Regions from separate parts of the Homo sapiens genome. Here region 2 is linked to region 1. A link means that fine-mapping ties the variant in region 1 to the expression of a gene that starts in the linked region. Tissue or cell type: esophagus mucosa. Region 1 holds a variant in brackets; the other region holds the start of a gene. All regions are shown on one strand. Distances are between the middles of the regions.

Region 1 (8,104 bases):
ACTGAAAAACTGTTAAGATGACTAAAAGTCCATAAACACGTGTGCATTATATAAAATATAAACTTATTTGTTATGTACGTGTACAGACACATACTTAGTTTATGATAAAGCTGGCACTTCAGACCAGTGGGTGAAGCATAGATTGTCCTGTAAATGATGGTATTGGGAAAACTGGCTAACCGCTGGAATGAATAAAGACAAAGCCATACATCACAGCATGTACCCAAATGAATTCTAGAAGGAATTAAGGTTTATGTATAAAAAATGAAAACATGAGCATGGGAAGAGATTACATAGGTGAATATTTGACTTACTCTGTGGCAGGGTGAGTTTTTCTAGCACAGTGTCAAAGTCATAAAAACATGGTATGATTTAAGTACGTAAAAATTAAAAGAAAATTTTGTTTCAAAAAAGTGGCTGGAGGGGGGAGGAAACAAGAGGGGTGCTGGAGGCTGCAGTCAGGGTCATGAGCAACGTGTCCACTAGCATCCTTCATTCCTGGGCCTGCCATGCTGGTGGAAAGGGCTCCAGATTGCCGTTTGGGAAGCCCCACTCTGGTCCATGAAAAGGCCCATGTAAAAGACCCAGGACAGCCTGGCATCTGAAAGGCCCCGACTGTAGGGGTGGTGTTAAAGATACTGCCTCACAGGTATCGGAGGAACCCAGGCCACAGGGCTGCCATCCATCAGTGTTACTTCAAGTAATTCTTTGGACACATGAGGAGGAAATGACCTCCAACACCAGCATGAGGCAGGCACACGCGTCTGTCCGTCCCCGTGGGCAGCTCGCAGGCTGTGTTAGGAGCACCTTCAGGGCCGACCTCAGCTGGCCACCGCCACTCGCCCCCGCAGTCGGTCATCCCAAGCTTTTCTCCCAACACTGTGACAAAAGTTGGGCTCAATGTTAGAAGGATGAGGCCTGCAGTAAGGGAGGGCCACAGGCTGTTTAACGAATACAGCAGGACTGCCAGCTAGGAGGAGGAAGTTCTCATGTCCTATAGTGCCATAGGGGATTATAATTAACAACAATTTGTCATGTATTTTCAAGTAGCTGGAAGAGTGGACTTCTAATGTTCCCAAAAGAAAGAAGTGATACATGTTTTTAGTGATGGATATGCTAACTACCCTGATTTGATCATTACACATTGTACAGATGTATTGAAATATCACACTGTACCCTATAAATATGTACAATTATCATGTGCCAATTAAAAATACAAAAAGAATGAAATTGGTCGGGTGCAGTGGCTCACACCTGTAATCCCAGCACTTCGGGAAGCTGAGGCGGGCAGATCCCCTGAGGAAAGGGTTCGAGACCAGTCTGGCCAACATGGCAAAACCCTGTCTCTACTAAAAATACCACAATTAGCCAGGTGTGGTGGTGGGTGCCTATAATCCCAGCTACTAGGGAGGCAAAGGCAGGAGAATAGCTTGAACCCAGGAGGCCGAGGTCGCATTGAGCCGAGATCACACCATTGCACTCCAGCCTGATCAATAAGAGACTCCATCTCAAAAAAAAAAAAAAAAAAAAATGAAATCATGTCCTTTGCAGCAACATGGATGCAACTGGAAGCCATTATCCTACATGGATTAATGCAGGAGCAGAAAACCAAATACTGTATGTTATCACTTATAAGTGAGTGCTAAACATGAGCACACATGAGCACAGGAGAGGAACAACTGACACCGGGACCTACATGAGGGTCGGGGCTGGGAGAAGCAAGAGGATCAAAAAACTACCTATGAGGTACTATGTTCACCACCTGCATGAGGAAATCATCTGTACACCAAACCCCAGAGACATGCAATTTACCCATGTAAGGAACCTGCACAGGTACCCCTGAACCTAAAATAAAAGTGGAAGAAAAAAAATAGAGTTGACATTATTTAAAAATATATAATAATATTTAGAGCAGAAAAAGAAAAAGATTAGGCCTGTAGAAATGATTTAATTCGAAAATGTCTCTGTATTCTAATCCGGTGGGCTTGGATTTGTTTCTGTCCACTTTTCTGCTGTGCCTGTCACAAAAGCCCTGCACCTTAAGCACGAGCTGGGGCCTCGGAGCGTGGGGCTTGCTCTGGCCTCCTGAACCCCACTGGTGTAGCCAGAAGCCCTGGGCTCAGCCCCCACTGCTGCGTGCTGGGCGCAGTGTGTCTTGGGCCGGACCCTGGCCTGTGCTGTCATGGTAAGTGCGGGAGGTGCGGGAGGGGCAGGAGGTGCGGGAGCGTGGGCGGGCGGGGCCGGCTGAAGGGGGCCCCCACTCTGAGAGCCACCAGCACAGCAGTGAAGTAGGGGGATGAGGAACAGGGCTGAGCTCCATGGCGGTCAGGGACACTCCCCAGGACGGGGCCTGAGAATCAAAGGAGGATTCCCCGCCCACAGCCAGCAGAGGAGCACTCCCAGGAGCAAACCACCGGCAAACGTGCTGGGGCGCCCCCGGGTTGGGCTCAGGCCGGGAGAGGCAGAGGGTGCGCGGTGCAGGCAGGGCCCTGCTGGGTCAGAGGCCAGGCCAGATCCCGCACAGAAGCAGGCGTGGCTCAGCACCTTGAAGCCGAGAGGCTTTGTGATCCGATTTACATTTTCCAAAGGTGACTTTGTCAGGTGCCTGGAAGTGGATTAGGGCAGGCCATGGATTAGGGCAGGCCCTGAGGACAGAGCGCTGAGGGTCTGCTGCCTCCAGGCAGGGAGAAATGAGGAGGCCTCAAACCACAGGCAGAGAGAACAAAGCTCCCACCCCCATCTGTGTGGCAGATGAAAGAATCTGCCTCCGACTGCAATCAAAAAGCAGCACCAGATAGTATGTAATAAAACATATTTGTAGGCAACGTGAACTTAAATGAAAAGTAAGGGAATCCTCAGAAACAAAAGCAGTCACTGAAAATTGAATGGACAGCCTGTGACATGAAGCCCTGCGCCTAGGGCCAGGAGCAGCAGAAGTGGGGGACGGTGGCCCTCTGGTAGCCCAGAAGATTGGGTTTCTACAAACAGGAATGGATGGGGCAGATTGAGAGGATGGGATAGAGAGGAGCTGAGAACTGCTGCGTGAAGTTAGGACTCTCCAGGGGCCATTGCCTCAGAAAACAAAAGACCAATAACTGGAAAAATATTTACCTGCACGTATCAAATGACAACATGAAATTTTGTTATCTTGGCCTAAACATTTCCCTGACAATTTCTAATCGTTTCCCTGCTTTTATGCAGGTTTGAACTTGAAATTTATACTATTTAAGCCAAGAAGTTAACCTTAAACTGTCCCCAAAATATTATATTCCTGGAAACCAACACAGAAACAAGGGCTAATTTCTCTGGACAAATACACCATCAACCGAGGCTTTTCAGAATCCCTGTGGCAGGCGGAACTCTCAGATGCCCCCGGGATTCTGGTCCCTGTGTGTGTTCACACCTTCTCCTAGTTAGGCACTCATCTGCATGCTGCGCTGAAGAGACTTTTCAGATGTAACCAATGTCCCTATTCAGCTGAGTTCAGAAAAAGGCTATCCTAGGTAGAACCCCTAATCCGGTGATCCCTTATTAAGGAATAGGGTTCTTCCCGGAAGAAGGGATTTGAAAAGAAAGAGACTCCGTGGCTGAGAAATTATCCATTGTTGGTGTTGAAGGAGGAGAGAGCCATCAGCCAGCCAGCTGGGCAGCCTGCAGATGC[T/TG]GGGGGGCCTCCAGCTGGCAGGCAGTGAAGAGGCAGGGACCTCAGCCCTGCAACCAGGACTGCCGGGCAACCTGAATGAGCTTCAGAGCATATTCTTCCCCAGAGCCTGCAGACACAAACTCAGCCAGCACCCTGATTTCAGCCTGGCGAGACTGAGCAGAGAGCGCAGACGCATTACATCATCATCCCTCTCGCCTACAGAGCAGCACACTGATGGACACACTGTTCCAGCCTCTACGTTTGTGGTCATTTGTTATGCACCAATACACATTTTGTTACCTAAAAGTGGGGTGTACTGTAACAAATACCTAAAAATGTGGCTGTGCCAGTGGAAGCTGACAGCAGGCAGAGGCATTCTTCTAAGAATGTTGAGGAGCGTGGCAGAAAAAGCCTGAAGTGCAGTGGACAGACTATTAGTAGAAATCTGTACTTGGAGGATCCTAGTGGTGAGACCTCAGAAGAAGAGGAGGGACATGTCATTGGAAACTGAAAGAAGGGGAATCTTTACTGTTTATTGGCAGAAACTTAGCAAATTGTGCCCTGCAGTTAGGCAGAAAGCAGAAGGTATACATGACTGACTTGAATAAATTGCTAAGGAGATTTCCCAGCAAAGTGTTGAAGATGTGGCTGAGTTCATTGTTGCTGCTTATAGTAAAATGTGAGAGGAGGGAGATAACTTGAGAAAAGCACTATTAAACAAAAAGCAACCAGGACTGGATGATTTGGGGAATTGTCAGCCCATCCATATAGCTACGGACAATAAAATTAGGAGATTGCTTTCAAAGGCATGGCAGAGAAAAGAAGGTGAGGGCGTGACTGTACAACCTTTTGCTAAAACCTCAGAAGGATCAATGAGTCAGAGAATTCAGTCGTACAAAGGGCTCTTTCAAGAGATAGCATATGTGCCTCACAGGTCTTCTCAACCAAACCAGAGGACCACAGCCCTGTAGCATCTGGTCCTCAGCTGCATCAGCAAGAGCCAAATATAGCAAAGAGATTATCTCAAAAAGATCTGTGCTGCAGTAAACTTACAAGTGCTGATATTTCTTTGACACACTGATTTCATTTCCTTTGGTTTATATTGCCAAGAGTGGAATTGCTGGATCATATGGTAATTCTATTTTTATTTTTTGAGGAATCTCCATACTGCTTTCCACAGTGGCTGTACCAATTTACATTCCCACCAAGAGTGTACAAGGGTTCCCATTTCTCTACACCCCTTGACTTGTTTTCTTATGTCTTTCTGATAACAGCCATTCTAAATGGAATGAGGTGGTATCTCATTATGGTTTTGATTTGCATTTCCCTGATGAATGTTGAGCATTTTTTCCTAGACCTGTTGGCCATAACATGTCTTTTCATTAAAGGTAGCAGCATTTGCAACTTCCTAGACATGTCTTCCAAGATATGGAATCAACCCAAGTGTCAGCAGACAAATGGATAAAGAAAATGTCGTATATATACACAATGGAGTACTAATCAGCCATGCAAAGGATGGAATCCTGTCATTTGCAACAACCTGGATGAACCCAGAGGACACCATCTTAAGTGAAATAAGCCAAACACAGAAACACAAATAAATACCACATGATTTCACTCATGTGGAATCTTAAAAAAAAAAAAAAGTTGACATCACAGAAGCAGAGGTAGAACACTGGTTACCAGAGACGGGATAAGCAGGGTAGAAGGGAGGATGAGGAGAGTTTATTCAATGGGCACAAAGTTACAATTATGTAGGAGGAGTAAGTTCTATTGCACTGTGGAGTGATGAGGATTGACAGTACAGTACTGTGTATTATAAAATAGCTAGAAGAGAGAATTTTGAATGTTCTCACCACAGAGCAATGATAAATGCATGAGGTGATGGATATGTTAACTACCCTAATTTGATCAGTATACAATATATGTTTATCAAAACATCAGACTGTACCCCATAAATATGTACAATTGCAATAAAATAGTGACCACTAAAAGGAGATCTGTGGGCATGGCTTTTGCTTAATGGTCTGAATCCCAGTGTAATTCATGCAAACCCCACAAGGTTCTTGACTAAAATTGGGAAGAAATACTGCCAGCTTGGACTAAAAGGAACAGAGAGACTCTGAAATTAAAAAGACAGTCAGACCCTTAGGATTCCAGCAGCAGGAAGCGGGTTGATGAAACTTCAGCTGCAAATGCTCCTACCTTTAATGAAAAGGAAGAATGACTCAGAGCTCAGAGAACAGAACCAACAAGAGCCCAGAGGGTGAGCAAGATAACTGAGGAGCAAGGAAGGATAATTCCCAGGCATGGAAACCTAATCAAGGGTCTCTGGCTGGAAGTCATCCAGCTAGATTTCAAAACTGCTTTGGAGCAGTGACTCCTTTCTGTTTCACCTTCCATTTTCCTCCTTTTTAAACTGGAACATCTATAACTGTCACTCTATGTCTGTCCCACCGTCATATACTGGGAGTGTTGGGGAGATCACCTCTCTCTTGGATAGAGAGGAAATGTGTCTCAAAAAATTAACCCAGAAGCCTCATCCAAATCTGGGCCTGATTTACCTGATGAGATTTTAAACTTGGAATGATGTCTGAATGGGATTAGATTCTAGGGAATGTTTGGAAGGGCTATAAATCATTGGGGTCCAGGCCAGGCACAGTGGCTCATGCCTGTAATCCTAGCACTTAGGGAGGCCAAGGCAGGTGGCTCACTTGAGGTCAGGAGTTCAAGACTAGCCTGGCCAACATGGCAAAACCCCATCTCTACTAAAAATACAAAAATTAGCCAGACATGGCAGTGCACATCTGTAATTCCAGCTACTCGGGAGGCTAAGGCAAGATAATTGCTTGAACCAGAGAGGCAGAGGTTGCAGTGAGCCAAGACTGTGCTACTGCACTCCAACCTGGGTGACAGAGTGAGACTCTGTCTCAAAAAAAAAATTATTGAAATGTGGTAGGCAGAATTCAAAGATGGCCCTCAAGATTCACATCCCCTGATGTACACACCTTGCATGATTCCCTCCCTATGAGTGTGAACAGAACCTGTGAGTATTACGGAATACCACCCCATGATTATGTGTCATTATATGGCAAATTGGGTTTTGCCAATGTAGCTAAGAAGTCTAATCAGTTGACTTTGAGTCAGTCAAAAGAAAGATTTTCCTGTGGGCCTAATCTAATAACAAGAGCACAATACAGCTGGTTCAGAGACAGAGAAAATCAGAGATTCTAAATAGCAGAGACATTTCTGCTGTCCTTGAAAGAGAAACTCCCATGTTGTGGAGGGGGCAATAGGGAAGGAAAAGGCAGGCAACTTCTAGGGGCTGAGAGTAGTCCCAGTAAACATGGAGAAACCCTGCCTCTACTAAAAATACAAAATTAGCCTGGCGTGATAGCACATACCTGTAATCCCAGCTGCTCAGGAGGCTGAGGCAGAAGAATTGCTTGAACCTGGGAGGTGGAGGTTGCAGTGAGCAGAGATTGTGCCATTCCACTCCAGCCTGGGCAACAAAAGCAAAGCTCCGTCTCAAAAAAAAAAAAAAAGAAAGAAAATTGGGAAAATAGAGTTTTATCTCACTCCTTATACAAGAATCAACTCAAAATAAAGACTTAATTTTAAGACCTGAAACAATAAAACTAAATGCCAATACACCTAATAACAAAATTTCAAAATACGTGGTGCCAAAACTGATAGAATTCCAAGGAGAGATAGACAATCCACCATTGTAGTCAGAGATTTTAATGCCCCACTCTTAATAATTGATAGAACACAGAGACAGAAAATCAGTAAGGTATTTGGGAGATTTTCACACACTATCAACCAACCTGACCTAAAAGATGTTTATAGAGCACTTCACACAATGAGAGCTGAATGCAGTTTTTTAGTGTACACAGGACACTTACTAAGATAAAAAACATATTCTGGACTATTAAACAAGTATACAAAAAGCAGGACTGATGAGCAAATTCAGTGGAGTTGCAGGATACAATACCAACTTGCAAAAATCAATAGCACTTCTCTACACTAACAACAAATGCCTGTAATCCCAGCACTTTGGGAGGCCAAGGCGGGTGGATCATGAGGTCAGGAGATTAAGACCATCCTGGCTAACACGGTGAAACCCAGTCTCTACTAAAAATACAAAAAAAAAGGCTCTCCCTCCTCCCCCCCCCCCCCACAGTCTCCCTCTGATGTCGAGCCGAGTCTGGACTGTACTGCCGCGATCTCGGCTCACTGCAACCTCCCTGCCTGATTCTCCTGCCTCAGCCTGCCGAGTGCCTGGGATTGCAGGCGCGTGCCGCCAGGCTTGACTGGTTTGTGTATTTTTTGGTGGAGATGGGGTTTCGCCGTGTTGGCCGGGCTGGTCTCCAGCTCCTGACCACGAGTGATCTGCCCGCCTGGGCCTCCCGAGGTGCCGGGATTGCAGACGGAGTCTCGCTCACTCAGTGCTCAATCTTGCCC
Region 2 (8,104 bases), 530 kb after region 1:
TTCAAATTTATGCCCCCCCTTCCACTTTTGTTTTAACTTAGAGGAGGGAGTAAGGAGGTGGGCGTGGCAATATCAGAAAGGGAAACTAGCAGTGTAATAATAATATTAATAGTACCAAGTGTATACTGCAAGCCAAGTGCTGTTCTATCTAAATGCTTTATATACAATGATTTCCTTAAATTCTCACAATAAAGCAACAAGAAGAGACACAGTCCTACAGAGGAGGAAATTGAGACATAGAAATTAAATGACTTGCCCAAGGTCATACTGAGAAAGTCATGGTGCCAGAATTCTAACTCAAACATTTTGGTTCCAGTCTTCTGCCCTTTTTTTATTTTTATTTATTGATTTTTTTTTTTTGAGGCGGAGTCTTGCTCTGTCGCCCAGGCTGGAGTGCAGTGGCACAATCTCGGCTCACTGCAAGCTCCGCCTCCCGGGTTCAAGCCATTCTCCTGCCTCAGCCTCCCGAGCAGCTGGGACTACAGGTGCCCGCCACCACGCCCGGCTAATTTTTTGTACTTTTAATAGAGAACGGGGTTTCACTGTGTTAGCCAGGATGGTCTCTGCCCTTTTTTAACTAAGCAAAAAAGGAAGCTGGAGAAGAACTGTACCCTGGAGATGCCAGCAGTCTCCAAGGAGCTCCCCGCAAGCATCCCAGAGGAAGGGGTGTCTGCCAGGGGTCTCCACTGTAGTTTCTCTTTTCCCCTTTGCAGGCTCAGAGCAGGCTGAACTCACAGCCTTGTGCACCTGTCCCTGTGCATCTTCCTCTACCTTGTCCTCTTGGCTCTGTTGAGCGGCCCATGTAGCCACACTGACTGGTGGGCAGGTGACAGACTGGCACATGGCACGTGGGCTTTGGTACACTTGGGGTCTCTGTAGCAGTGCCAGCAGCTCCCACTGTGCAAGACTGCTGCTGGCAGCGTGAACAGGAGGGCCACCAGCAGCAGTGAGTCTCATTGCAAGAACACAGCTGGCAGTCCTCCGGGAGAGAAAAGCCGGGGTGGGCCAGGGCCTCTGGAAGATGTGGGGTCTTCCCATCCCCCACACCTAGCCTGAGCTGAACAGAGGGCAAGCTAAGAGTTTGGATGTTTGGAGAGACATGAGGAACGGTCAGGTGTCAGGAGGACAGGTGGGTTAAACAACAAGGTGGGGCTTGGAGTGAGGGTGAACACGAGGACAGAAAGACACTCAAGGCAGCTGGAAGTACAAATGGCAGACTACAGCCTCAGCCACTTAATGTTCACAGGCCACAAGGCAGCATCTGGCTAGTCACTCAGATCCTCTAATAGACAAACCACCAAACACACACACACACACACACACACACACACACCCTGGCTGGACAGACTTCCAGATGGACAGAATCCCAGGGAAACACCCAGCTGGACAAACAGACAGATTACTGACAGATGGGTAGACCCTCAGCCAGACATCCAAATAGGCCTGTGGCCAGAGAGACACCTGGGCCCCCCAGCCAGGCAAAGGTCAGAATCCCTCAAGGACAGGTGCCCTCCCCAAAATGGACAGAGACATTACCCCAGAGGAGAGAACACCCCACCCACCTAGTCAACCAGACCTTCAGCTGGACGACATGCCCTCCACCAGTCAGACAGACCTCAGCCTATGAGGACAGGCCCTCAACAGGATCCCTGCTGCTGGACAGAGATCCTCTAGCCCATAAAGACTGCCCTGAATAACCATGTGTGCTCAGGGGCTCACATTTTCCCAGAAAATGTCTTTATTTTCTGAAAGCTTACTGATGCTTCTGTATTCTACCTCCCTGGATCTCCATGGCCATCCACAAACCCTCAATGATTATACTGAGAGTCACTATCATGCACTGAGCAGAGCTCTCAATGACTTCCCAGACTCTTCGGACCCTTCAATTACTAACACTCCAAATCCCAATGGCCCCACAATTACTTTCACTTCTTGTCCCAAGTATCCACTGGCCTCCCAATGACTGTCATTAATATCTACTGACACCCCCCCCCCCATGAACATCCAAGGGACCCCGACTGGCTTCCAATGAATTCCCTATCACCACCATCCTAAACAATTACCTCCCTGAGAATGCTCAAAGATGAAACTGATAAATGATGAACATGAATCTCACAGTGACCCCTGCGGACCCCACGATAAATCAAACAGCCCTAGCTGCTGATCCCCACAGAGCCACTTTGATCGCTCCATCACTTCAGCCAAGGTCAGCAAACGACAGCCTGTAGGCCACACACACACACTAGAATAATTCATGACACATGAACATTACATGAAATTCTGATTTCTTTGTCCATAAATGGTTTCTTTGGGACACAGCCACACTATATTGTCTGCTTTCATGCTGCCACAGCTGAGTTAAGCAGCTGGGGCAGCGATAGCAAAGCCAAAACCACTTCCTACCGGGACCTTTAAGAAAGTGTGCCCTTAAATACTCTGATAGCCCCTAGTGAATTAAATTGACCACCTGACATCATGCCCCTGTTGACCCTTCAGAGACTCAGGCACACATCCAGGCCCCAATGCTACCTTTCAACCCCTCAACGACCTCAAACTGGTGTCCACTGACGCCCCTTCCAGTGACACCCCTCTTAATTCTTCCGACCTCGGCGAGAAGGGGGCTAACCTAGGCCTGTCCTTGAAGAGACCCAGGTGCCAGTCCATTCTCTCCAGCCTCCCCTCGGTGATCCCGGAAGCTGGAACGGCGGCTCTCCTCTGACCTCTGCACACTTTCTGAAGATGGGAGTGTCAGGGCAGGCAAAAAAGAGAAGCTCTTCGTTCCCCAGAACCCACTTCCAGTGCCTCAGTTCTGTTTCCCAGCAGGCTTGTGCAGGTCGAGATGCTCACACAGGACTGACCCTGGTGCCCCAGCGCATCCGGGAAAAAGGAACCACAAATTCCTCGGGAAATACACAGAGAAGATCCCGCTGCCACTTGGCCTTTCCCACGGCGTGGCTGCCCCTCCCCGGCCTCCCTTGGGCCCGGCTGGAGCGCACAGCGCGGGACGCCCCCGACCCGGGGTCCTCTGGCACGAGGGGCAGCCTGATCTCGGCGACCGTCTCCACCCAAGGCTGCTGCCCGCCCCAGCTCGGACTCCGCGCGGCCTGGCTCCCAGGGGACGGGCGGGAGGGCCCGGCGAGACCGCTCGGCCGTCCACCCAGAGCCGGCACCCGGAGGTCGGCCCCTGGGCGCGGATCCCGATCTGAGGGCGGGTCCCAAGCGGCAGGGAGCGAACCTGGGACCGTGCCACCCCCCCACCAGTGGGCGCGGCAGCCGAAAAAAAGGGGAAGCGCCGGCGCTGGACTCTGCTCAGGGCAGCCCGCGAGGACCTAGGGCTCCGGCCACAGCGGCCCGAGCGCCCGGGGTGGGGCTACGCGGGCTCAGAACACGGTGGCTGGGGCGCCCTGCCCGCCGCTGCGCGCTTCCATTGGCTGCCGAGGCAAGGGCGGGGACTCAGTCACCGGCCTCCGCCTCCCGCGGCGTCCACACTCGCCGCGCGCGCGGCGGCCGGGCTGGACCTTGCTGGCCCGCGGCGCCATGAGCCGCAGCCTGGACTCGGCGCGGAGCTTCCTGGAGCGGCTGGAAGCGCGGGGCGGCCGGGAGGGGGCAGTCCTCGCCGGCGAGTTCAGCGTGAGTGGCACACGGGGTCCGCGAGCGGCGCGCCCCGGCCCTGGCCCTGCGTACGCCTGTCCTCCGCGCACGGCGGGCTCTGCCTTTCTGTCTCGGTGTCCCCGGTGTCTCCCCGCCTCGGGGGGTCTCTCCGTGTTTCTCTCCCCAGCACTTCTCTGTCGCTCTTGCTGTCTCCGTCTTCACTCTCTGCCCCCCGGCCCCGGAGCGCGACGTCCACGGCCAGGCCGGGACGGACCGTGCACACCCTCGTTCCCGGTGTCCTCGTCGCGCTCCCGGAACAACCTGGCTGCGGGCGGGACAGGTGGGGCGGGCGCCGCAGGGGAGGGCGGGCGGCCCTGCTGCGCTGGACAGCCCCGGCCCCGCCGCTTCTGGCGACCTGACTGTCCCCTGTGACCACAGGAAGGAAGGGGCTGCAGCAGGGCGAAGAGGAACACGGAGGCTGTGGCGTGGTGAGGGTGTGAACGCCGGGCTCGAATCCGCGTCCGGGCCCGAATCCGCTTCCCGTCCCGAATCCGCGTCCCGGCCATCCGCGTGTGGTCCAGGCGGTCTACCTGGCCCCTCTGACCTCGGCTTCTCCCTTGGTGAAATGGGGACATGAATGACCAAACTGGTCTAAGGATTAAATGATGTGGGTGAAAAGCACTTAGTACATATTGGGCGCACACTTCGTAGGGGCGTTCGTCACTGCCTATAAAGATTCTAAACGTGGGCCAGGTGCGGTGGCTCACACCTGTAATCCCAGCACTTTGGGAGGCCGAGGTGGGAGGATCGCTTGAGCTCAGGAGTTCGAGACCAGCCTGGGCAACACAGCGAAACCCCGTCTCTACTAAAAATACAAAAATCAACTGGGCATGGGCGCATGCCTGTAATCCCAGCTACTAGGGAGCAGAGACAGGGGACTCGCTTGAACCTGGGAGGCAGAGGTTGCAGTGAGCTGAGATGGTTCCACTGCACAGCTGAGATGGTGCCACTGCACTCCAGCCTGGGCCACAGAGTGAGATCCCATCTCAAACAAAACAAAACCAAACAAAAAATCTAAACGTTACAATACAGGTAGTGCAAGCCCAGCATTAGGAAGGCTCACGCAGAATGCTAGGCACTGTACATTACAGTTGATGACGTGTTTAAAGTGTAATCGCTTATGTACCAGACATAGAAACATACCATACAAACGCATAAACTGATATATGGTGACATGTATCAAGTTTAGAAATATGACAAATATATAAAAGTATTATAAATGACCGTTTATACAATAAACATTGCATAACTGCATAAAACAATACAACAAATGAATATAACAAAGATTATAATTTATAAAATGACCAAAGTTATTTGATAAATTCATAAGTAGATATAAAATATGTAACAGATGGCCGGGCACGGTGGCTCACGCCTATAATCCCAGCACTTTGGGAGGCCGAGGCGGGCGGATCACGAGGTCAGGAGATCCACACCATCCTGGCTAACACGGTGAAACCCCGTCTCTACTAAACACACAAAAAATTAGCTGGGCGTGGTGGCGGGCGCCTGTAGTCCCAGCTACTCGGGTGGCTGAGGCAGGAGAATGGCGTGAACCCGGGAGGCGGAGCTTGCAGTGAGCCGAGATCGCGCCACTGCAGTCCAGCCTGGGCAACAGAGCGAGACTCCATCTCAAAAAAAAAAAAAAAAAAAGTAACAGATAATTATAAACCTAAGTAATTTACACACATGTAGAAACATTGTATATAAGAAACTAAGAAATGCATAATAAATGTAAAATATATAATTATACAATATAAGAATGTGTGTAACAAATGTAAACATAATACCCATGTGATATATGACATCATGCGACTGGGTGGGTTCTGAACCGTGTACAGTGCGGAGGGCCTCACATGCGGAAGGCTGGGTGGCGAGGGCACCCCTGCTCCCCAAGCCTGCCTCCCGCATGTGCAGGAATCACTGCGCTCTTCTAGGTGTTCCCACTACACAAGGGCATCATGAGGGCTTAAATGACCCAATGGACACAAGTAAAGCACTTAGAATAGTGGCTGGCACACAGTGGTGGCATGGGTGTTACTTATTATCATTGAGATTACGAATACCTGACGATGATGGTAATACACGATTCACTAATTATTATTATAATCTCCCAGTAACACAGTGCCTATAGTATCTTGTACATAATATGTTATCCATTATAATGCCTATGCATTCATTGTACATTGTCTTATATGTTTAGCTACATAGCCCATAATATATTTCATTACAGTTATTGCTTACAAGACAATGTCACAGATTGAGTGTGCAGGGGGTGGGTGCCGAGAGGGTCTGAGTTCAACCCTCACCGTGTGACTTCCTGGTTGGGACCTTCCACAAGTCGCTGAACCACGTGGTGCATAAACTTTCCCGCCTGCACAATGGGGACGTCAATAATAGTACCCACGTCGTAGGAACCTGTGATGATTACATGCCCTTAGCACAGAGAGTGGCACAGAGAAGGTGCCCTGGGTCACTATTTCGGTATCATTATTATTAGGCAGGCCCAGTGCCATCAGGGTCTGCACTCACCTCCCCAGGCCACTGGCTTTGTATCCTGCAAGCGTGCCTAGGTGGCCTGGGACTCTGACCTGGCTCCTCTCCTGTCTTCTCCCCTCCCTGACCCACTCATAATGCTCTACCAGGACATCCAGGCCTGCTCGGCCGCCTGGAAGGCTGACGGCGTGTGCTCCACCGTGGCCGGCAGTCGGCCAGAGAACGTGAGGAAGAACCGCTACAAAGACGTGCTGCCTTGTAAGTCGGGGCTTCCGTAGGGAGTCGGTGCAGCCTTGCACGCCCTGCCACGTCCAGGCGTCAGTGTGCACTGGAGTCACCCACTGTGCTCTCCTCCCAGAGCCTCACCCTCTGCACTGCTCAGCAGCCCACAAGGGCACCTTGGTGGGATCTCTGCATGTGTGTGGTCCCCTGCTGGCTTTCAGCTAGGGGGCTGTCAGAGGCTCCGTCACCCTATCCTACCCAAACTCCACGTTTCTCACCTTATCTGCTGACAGATGATCAGACGCGAGTAATCCTCTCCCTGCTCCAGGAAGAGGGACACAGCGACTACATTAATGGCAACTTCATCCGGGTGAGGGTTGGGGTCACGGAAGGAGGTGGACTGGGAGTGGCCAGGGGTGGGCCGCAGAATCTCAGTCGTGAATTCGGCCTTCACCAGGGCGTGGATGGAAGCCTGGCCTACATTGCCACGCAAGGACCCTTGCCTCACACCCTGCTAGACTTCTGGAGACTGGTCTGGGAGTTTGGGGTCAAGGTCAGCACTTGGGGGTGCGGCACAATGGTGGGGTCAACATCTAAGTACCCCCTCGGCAGTTTCCCTGGCCCCCTCACCCAAATCACCTTCCTCTCCCCTGACCCTCCTTGTCTAGGTGATCCTGATGGCCTGTCGAGAGATAGAGAATGGGCGGGTAGGTGCCCTCTGCCCCCAGGTTTCATGTCCTTGTGGGAGGAGGGAGGAGGGATCTTGCTAGCTCCTCCTTGACCCCAGGACCCGAGGGTCCAGCTCTTGGAGTGACCTTATTGTAGCTCTGTGGGAAGCCCCATTGTTCCTCTAAGTTTTTGTTGATATGTTATTCATCCCCCAGTGTTGGCAACCCCTCTCCTGCTGGGCTTCCCAGCCATTTCACACCTTAGACCATAAGGCCCTATTCTGACTGCTTCCCCTGTAGGCTCTGATCTCTCTTTCCACCTCTCTTCCCTTTATTCACTCCACTCTAACAACTCTGGTCTCTGCTGTTCCCATGTTCCAGGGATGGCTCTGCCTCAGGGTCTGTGCCTTGGCTATTCCTTCAGCCTAGGACATCCTTCCCTGTGGCTTGCTCTATCACCTCCTTCAGGTCTTTGCTCAAATGGTAATTCCTCAATGAGACCTTCCGGGGTGGGTCTTCACACCATTTTAAACTCTCAGCACTTCCATTCTCCCTCCCTTGTCCTACTTTTCCTTCTTTCTTCACAGTTCTTATGAACTCCTAACACACTGGATAATCTACAAATGTATTATGTACATTGTTTATGCTTAATCTCCCTGATTTAGAAGGTAAGATCCACAAGGCCAGGGATTTTTGTTTTGCCTGTTAACATAAATTAGTTACTAAATAAATAAATGCATGTCAATATTGAAGGCTGAAGGCACATAGCTTCATGTGGTTTCTACATTCTTGCCTACTCCATGGATGGGGTAGGGGTTCCCTGGGGTGACTAGCTGATGGTGGAGGCTGTATGATCTGTAGTCTTGTCTCTTTCTCATTCCTGATTTTGGTAATTTGTGTTCTCTCTCTCTCTCTGTCTCATCTCTCTATTTCGCTATCTCTTTTTTCATGCTCCTGCCTGTTTTTTGTAAACAGTGTATTAGAACACAGCCACACTCATTTATTTACATATTGTGTATGCCTGCTTTTATGCTACAGTGGCAGAGTTGAGTAGTTGCAAGTTGAAT

The links. PIP is the estimated chance that this variant, and not a neighbour inherited with it, causes the effect.
Region 2: it holds the start of PTPN18, and the variant in region 1 is fine-mapped to the expression of PTPN18 in esophagus mucosa (GTEx, PIP 0.98).

What each region holds. Positions count from the first base shown.
Region 1 is chr2:129,825,231-129,833,334 of GRCh38, forward strand. No RefSeq gene overlaps it. Among named protein-coding and RNA genes, the nearest start is that of LINC02572, 48 kb to the right of the region's middle. The variant T/TG (reference allele first, on the strand shown) is at 3,662.
Region 2 is chr2:130,352,571-130,360,674 of GRCh38, forward strand. It overlaps PTPN18 (protein tyrosine phosphatase non-receptor type 18), which reads left to right and starts at 3,486. Exons shown (of 15, transcript NM_014369.4): 1 at 3,486-3,630; 2 at 6,297-6,405; 3 at 6,663-6,739; 4 at 6,827-6,922; 5 at 7,038-7,076. The coding sequence starts at 3,538. RefSeq lists silencers at 3,066-3,735, 3,876-3,925.